2 linked regions of the Homo sapiens genome follow. The protein of the gene in region 1 interacts with the protein of each later gene in a biochemical or structural test. Each region holds a gene or a part of one and is shown on either strand. Other genes may lie near its edges.

Region 1 (3,500 bases):
AGCAGAAGTTAGCTGGGACTCCCACTCCTCGGCAGAGCTGCCATCTTGAATCCTGCTGGTCACTCGCTCCCTTGGTCTTAAAGCAATGGAAGGGTGGCTCACATGGATGCCTCCTGGGTATTAGGAAATAACCATCACTGATAAATACAGACTGATAGTTTACCACATGCATGGTAAGTGTGGTAGTTTAAAATATTCTCGGCCAGGCGCGGTGGCTCACGCCTGTAATCCCAGCACTTTGGGAGTCCGAGGCGGGCGGATCACGAGGTCAGGAGATCAAGACCATCCTGGCTAACATGGTGAAATCCCATCTCTACTAAAAAATACAAAAAATTAGCCAGGCCTGGTGGCGGGCGCCTGCAGTCCCAGCTACTCGGCAGGCTGAGGCAGGAGAATGATGTGAACCCGGGAGGTGGAGCTTGTAGTAAGCCGAGATCGTGCCACTGCACTCCAGCCTAGGTGACAGAGCAAGACTCCGTCTCAAAAAAAAAAAAAAAAAAATTCTTACTTGTGTCTCCACAAACTATTTCAGCGTCCTAGAAGTTCTACCATGCCAACTGACATTTTCTGACCTGCCTCCAGCCACCAAGGCAGTGCCCAAATTCTTTGACTATGTATTCCACTTTTCACTTAAAAATATTGTCACTATATAAATCCCTTATTTTCTCACCTGAAACCATATATCAGACTGGGAAAATATCTGAATGCTCTACTCTGGGCCATTAATAAATACACAAATATGTAATACTTATCTTTTATTATCACTTATCAATAAACTGAGTAAAATAAATGTTTTCAGGGGAATTTCTCTCAGCCAGCCTTACCAGGGGATGATGGGAGAGGGGTGGGGAGGTGAACCGGCAACAACTATGGCCGGCGGCAGAGCAAGCTCTTTCCAAATGACTGCTGACCTAGGGCAGGGGAAAGGGAGTGGAGTGTGACAGAGGGTCTCACCCATGGGCTGAGAGAAAACAGGAGAGGAACCGACGTTCCTGAACTCCCCTTTTCTTCAGTCCCAACCTTGCTGCATCTGGCCCAAGGTTAGCTGAGTGCCATGCTACTTCCTTCACTGCCAACCCAGGCATCCTGGCCAGGCCCACCTGCTGTGGCCACCAACCACCTCTTTCACTTGGGGGATAGAAGAAGGGGAGGGAGGCAGCCTTCCTTCCTGTGGACCTACTTTCTTTCCCCGGGGTAAGAGGAAATGGGCTAGCAGTCCTTAAATCTTTATTTGGTAGTGCTGGAAAGTACTGTTTACCTGGCAGAAAGCTGGAATAGGGGAAGGCAAGGCCAGGAAGGCAAGAAGACAGAATGGCCCAGGTGTGGCTGGCGAAGGCCCACCATCCCTACCCAAATCACATCAGGGTTGGTGGGGGGGGGCACTTCTCCCTAGTGCTGCTGTGACCTGTCACAGACCCTCTCAACTTGTCCCACCCAGAAAGTACCTGGTCCTGTCTCTCATTCGCTTGTTCCCCACCTGAGCTCAGGTGGTGAGCATGGTGAGTGCTCAGGCTTGCATGGGAGGTTTACATTCATAGGTTTTAAGGAGTAGGGCCTCCAACTATAAAAACATAATATTAAACAGCCACTACAACTGAGGCATGTGTTTGAAAAAAGCTGGCTACAAAACTGTAGAGAGGATCAGATGTGGCCAGGCACGGTGGCTCACGCCTGTAATCCCAGCACTTTGGGAGGCTGGGGGGGGGGGACAATGGATCACAAGGTCAGGAGTTCAATACCAGCCTGGCCAAGATGGTGAAAACCCGTCTTTACTAAAACAAACAAACAAAATATATATATAATTATATTTTATATTATATATAAAATTAGCCAGGCGTGGTGGCTGACGCCTGTAATCCCAGCTACTTGGGAGGTTGAGGCAGAGAACTGCTTGAACCTGGGAGGCGGAGGTTGCAGTGAGCCGAGATCGCGCCTCTGCATTCCAGCCTGGGTGACAGGGTGAGACTCTATCTCAAAAAAAAAAAAAAAAAAAAAAAAGAGAGAGAGAGAGAGGATCAGATAATAACTGTCTAAAACAAGAGACCAAATCCTATGGTTGGAAAAAAAGAGGCCGGGCGTGGTGGCTCATGGCCTGTAATCCCAGCACTTTGGGAGGCTGAGGCGGGTGGATCACCTGAGGTCAGGAGTTCGAGACCAGCCTGGCCAACATGGTGAAATCCTGTCTCTACTAAAAATACAAAAATTAGCCAGGCGTGGTAGCATGTGCCTGTAATCCCAGCTACTTGGGAGGCTGAGTCAGGAGAATCACTTGAACCTGGAAGGCAGAGGTTGCAGTGAGCTGAGATCATGCCAGTGCACTCCAGCCTGGGCAACAGAGGGAGACTCCCATCTCAAAAAAAAAAAAAAAAAAAGAAAAAAAATAGACTGGCAAAAAATATGTAAAAATTCTAGCCTATGGGTGGTGGGGCTGTAGGTGGCTTTTCCCCCAATTTTATTTGACATTTTAATGTGAAAGGGATATAATTAAGTTGAAATTTTCTTTTTAAAGAAGGACGAACAAATTTGATAACTATTAACAGTGTACTGTGATCCCTTCCAGTCCCACCTTGGTGTACCTAAAAGCATACATATGACACATTTATTTGGAGATATGTAACCATACTACAAATATTGCTTGGCAACTTGCTTCTTTCATTTAACATCTCATTTATATTTTTCCACAGGAATATATACAGTCTACCTCATACTTTTTGACGACTTTATAATTAGTGTTCCACTGTGTGTACAAAACAAATCTCCTTACCCCAATATCGATAGACTTTGTTTCAAAAAATGTTCAGCCTCATGAGTATCTTACAGTCTTTCTGTGGGGGTAGATTTTCATAAGTGGAATTTCTGAGTCAAAGGACATGCGCAATTTGGTCAAACTGCTCTCAATAAGTTTGTGCCAATATACAAGTGTGCCTATGTCTTCCTTTACCAAAATTGAATATCATCAACCCTTTTAATTTTGCCAGTTGGATAGATTAAAAAATTATTTTATTAACAATGTTTTTTTCTTTTTCATGTCTTTTGGCTATTTGTATTTTTTGTGAATGAATTGCTCATATTCTTTATCCACTTTTTCTTTGGAAATTATATATATTGATATGAGGGTTCTATATACTGTATGTGTTATACATATTGCAAACATTTTCTTCTATCTATCTTTAAAAAAGCTTTTTTTTTCTTTTTGAGACAAGGTCTCACCCTGTTGCCCAGGCTGCAGTGCGGTGGCATGATCTTGCTCACTGCAAACTCTGCCCCACCTGGGCTCAAGCGATCCTCCCACCTCAGCCTCCTGAGTAACTGGGACTACAGGACGACAGCCACGTACCACCACGCCTGGCTAATTTTGTATTTTTTGTACAGACCAGGTCTCACTGTGTTGTTCAGGCTGGTCTTGAACTCCTGGCTCAAGTGATCTGCCTACCTTGGCATCCCAAAGTGTGGGATTACAGGTGTGAGCTATCGCACCCGGCCTAAAATTTTCATGTAGT
Region 2 (3,500 bases), on another chromosome or scaffold:
GCTTGAACCCGGGAGGCAGAGGCTGCAGTGAGCAGAGATCATGCCACTGCACTCCAGCCCGGGTAACAGAGTTAGACTGTGTCTCAAAAAAAAAAAAAAAAAAAAAAGAATTCATATATGTGTGTGTAACCAACTAAACACCCCATTTCTGAGATCAGAAGTCCTAAGGGCAGGAGCAGACACGCTGCCCTAGCCAAAGTCTTCACGTGCTTATAAAGCCAGTCGAGGGCTTTTTACCATTTCTTTTTTTTTTTTTTTTTAATTTCGAGAAACTGAGCAGATGCTTTAGAAATTCTCTTGTTACCATTGTGACTGATATTGCAATGTTTCTTTTCTTTTTAAAACAGAGCGGAGAGCCCAGAGCTTCGTAGAAACTACAAGTGGCAGCTCCGTGTGAGTGCCCACGCTAAGGCGGGCTGCCGAGCTGCCCTCCCGCTCCCGTCAGGCCACAGGCCCTCCATGGGTGGCCATGTGACAGTGCCTACTGCTCATTACAGCCAGGGCATTCATCTGAGGACTCTGGCGTTCGTGTCACATTCTTCTTGGTGCTTGTATACAGTCAGTGATTTGAAGGGGGCACCAGTTCAGAGGGAGAAGAACCGGGTCCCAAGAGGTGTTTTTGTTCTGTTCTGTTTATTTATGTATTTATTTGAGACAAAGTCTCGCTCTTTCACCCACGCTGGAGTGCAGTGGCACAATCTCGGCTCACTGCAGGCTCACTGCAACCTATGCCTCCCAGGCTCAAGTGATTCTCCTGCCTCAGCCTCCCAAGTAGCTGGGATTACAGGTGCACGCCATGACACCCAGCTAATTTTTGTATTATCAGTAGAGACAGGGTTTCACCTTGTTGGCCAGGCTGGTCTCAAACTCCTGACCTCAAGTGATCCGCCCACCTCAGCCTCCCAAAGTCCTGGGATTACAGGCATGAGCCACTGCGCCTGGCTTATTTTGTTTTTTAAATTGAGACAGGGTCTCCTTCTGTTGCCGAGGCTGGAGTGCAGTAGTGTGATCTCAGTTCACTGCAACCTCCACCTCCCGAGCCCAAGTGATCCTCCCACCACCCTCAGCCTCCCGAGTATAGCTGGGACTACAGGCTCACACCACCATGCCTAGCTTATTTATTTTATTTTATTTTATTTTATTTTATTTTATTTTATTGTTTGGTAGAGACACAGTTTCACCATGTTGGCCAGGCTAATATCAAACTTCTGGGCTCAAGCAATCTGCCTGCCCTGGCCTCCCAAAGTACTGGGATTAGAGGTGTGAGCCACGGCACCTGGGCCAACCCAGGATGTTTTGTTTCTCAATTTCTTTTTCTTTTTCTTTTTCTTTTTTGAGAAGGAGTCTTGCTCTGTCACCCAGGCTAGAGTGCAGTGGCATGATCTTGGCTTACTGCAAGCTCCGCCTCCCAGGTTCACCCCATTCTCCTGCCTCAGCCTCCCCAGTAGCTGGGACTGCAGGTGCCCGCCGCCATGCTGGGCTAATTTTTTGTATTTTTAGTAGAGTCGGGGTTTCACCGTGTTAGCCAGGATGGTCTCGATCTACTGACCTCGTGATCAAGTCAGGATCCTCAGCCTCAGCCTCCCAAAGTGCTGGGATTACAGGCGTGAGCCACCGCGCCCAGCCCTTGTTTCTCAATTTCTAACATGGAAATGTCCAGCTCCAGGAATACATGCTACACTTAAAAAATTATATTCTGCTACAACTGTCATTAGCTTTTGTATTACATCAAAAATGAAGAATCTGGAATACCATGGCTGACCATGTTTCATGTGCTAAGAGTGACCATGGCGAGTCTGAGTGCTCATTCAGGTTGTTTAAAAAAGAAAATCACCAGCCGGGCACGGTGGCTCAAGCCTGTAATCCTGGCACTTTGGGAGGCCGAGGTGGGCGGATCACCTGAGGTCAGGAGTTCGAGACCGGCCTGGCCAACAGTGAAACCCCATCTCTACTAAAAGTACAAAAATTAGCCAGGCATGCACCAGCACGCCTATAATCCCAGCTACTCAGGAAGCTGAGACAGGAGAATTGCTTGAACTCAGGAGGCGGAGCTTGCAGTGAGCCGAGATCATGCCACTGCACTCCGGCCTAGGTGACAGAGCGAGACTCCATCTCAAAAAAAAAAAAAAAAAAATCACCAATCAGGGGTGGAGGAGCTGGCAGCCTCGAAAGAAAAGAGGCTTCTCTACAGGGTCCCAAGATCTGGACTGGGCACCTACCCTGGCCTGCATTTTCTAGACTCTAGACTCATTTGCTTCACGTCCAAGTTGGGCCTTCACAAGGGAGTCAATGTTCACGTCATGCCTGCAGTTCTGTTGCAAGCAATGAACCTGGGATCCTGAAAGTTGACTTGAGAAGCCTGGGAAATCCTAGATTTCTATAGATGGCAGCACAACAGACAGAGCAAAAAGAACAGCTCCCATACATCTGATGACACTGAGGTTCTCACCGCCGCTCTTAAATGCTGTGGCAGAACAATGGTGTATAAAGCACTTCCATGTGCCGGGCATGGCTCTGAGTCCTCTACAAGGGAGACTGACTCTTCCGGACTTCACGACAACCTTGTGAAGTGGGGACTGTTATTCCCATTTTACAGACCAGAGCCTGTGATCACCAAGCTCCTGAGGGGCAGAGCCAGGGCTCAGCAAAGCAGCTGGCCCAGCGTCCATGCTCTTCGCCATTATGTTATTCTGTGTCTCAAAACTGCTCGCACGGCTTCCCCGTGCGGGCACTACTGTAAGTGCCTGACATGGGCTGGCAAGGGACAGACCTCACGACGCCCCTGCAAGTGGAGATCTGGGTGGTATATGCTGAGCACTGGAGAAAAGGTGGGCAGAGCCTGCCAAGCCCCACAGCAGGGCAGGGTCTGCCTGGATCCAGCTGTGAACCCCGACCTCTACCACAGCCTCTCACTGCCAACACACTCCAGGGCAGAGCACGGCAGTGCCTCCATGCAGGGGAACCAGTGAAAGGGTGCTGAATGCCACAGGGTGGCAGGGGCACAGCACCTGCAGCCGCTGGGGGTGACTCACCTTGTAGAGCTGGTGAAAGCCAAATGCAATGCCTGCCATGATGATGGCCAGGGCGCCGTAATCTCGCCATCGGGAGCCTGCGGGACCTACAGGCGGGAAGAGGAGGAGGGTTAGAAGACGCACATGGCGTCCTTCTTCGGGTGGGGGCTGGCACAGGTGCCTCAGTGGCACAGTCTCCTCGCCTCCAACAATGGGCAAGTGGAACACTCCAACGCAGGAAGGCAGCACATGATCATCACAACAGCAGCCGGCTCCACCCCTCCTGTTCCCACTGCCTCAACTGGGACACAAGGGATGCCAGTCACCCAACCCTGACTGCAGGCTGTGGGTGGAGGTATCTAGCAGTGAGCTGAGACCTGAGTTGGCAGTCAGGTGGCAGAGGTGATCTGAAGACCAACAGCATGGTCTCTACCTCAGGAACAAAAGATCCAGAGAGGATAACAGGAGTATGTTTAGGGGAGCATAAAT

Evidence for each region. Proteins that work in one complex are often made in the same cells at the same time.
Region 2: the proteins of NFKBIL1 (region 1) and PEX14 interact in a test that uses a peptide from one of them, tested with the Homo sapiens proteins (one large-scale study listed by BioGRID and IntAct).

Annotation. Positions count from the first base shown.
Region 1 is NC_000006.12:31,554,108-31,557,607, reverse strand, and holds part of NFKBIL1 (NF-kappa-B inhibitor-like protein 1), read right to left. Parts: intron 1-3,500. UniProt on the Homo sapiens protein: Involved in the regulation of innate immune response. Acts as negative regulator of Toll-like receptor and interferon-regulatory factor (IRF) signaling pathways.
Region 2 is NC_000001.11:10,617,950-10,621,449, reverse strand, and holds part of PEX14 (peroxisomal membrane protein PEX14), read right to left. Parts: intron 3,119-3,500; coding exon 3,033-3,118; intron 1-3,032. UniProt on the Homo sapiens protein: Component of the PEX13-PEX14 docking complex, a translocon channel that specifically mediates the import of peroxisomal cargo proteins bound to PEX5 receptor.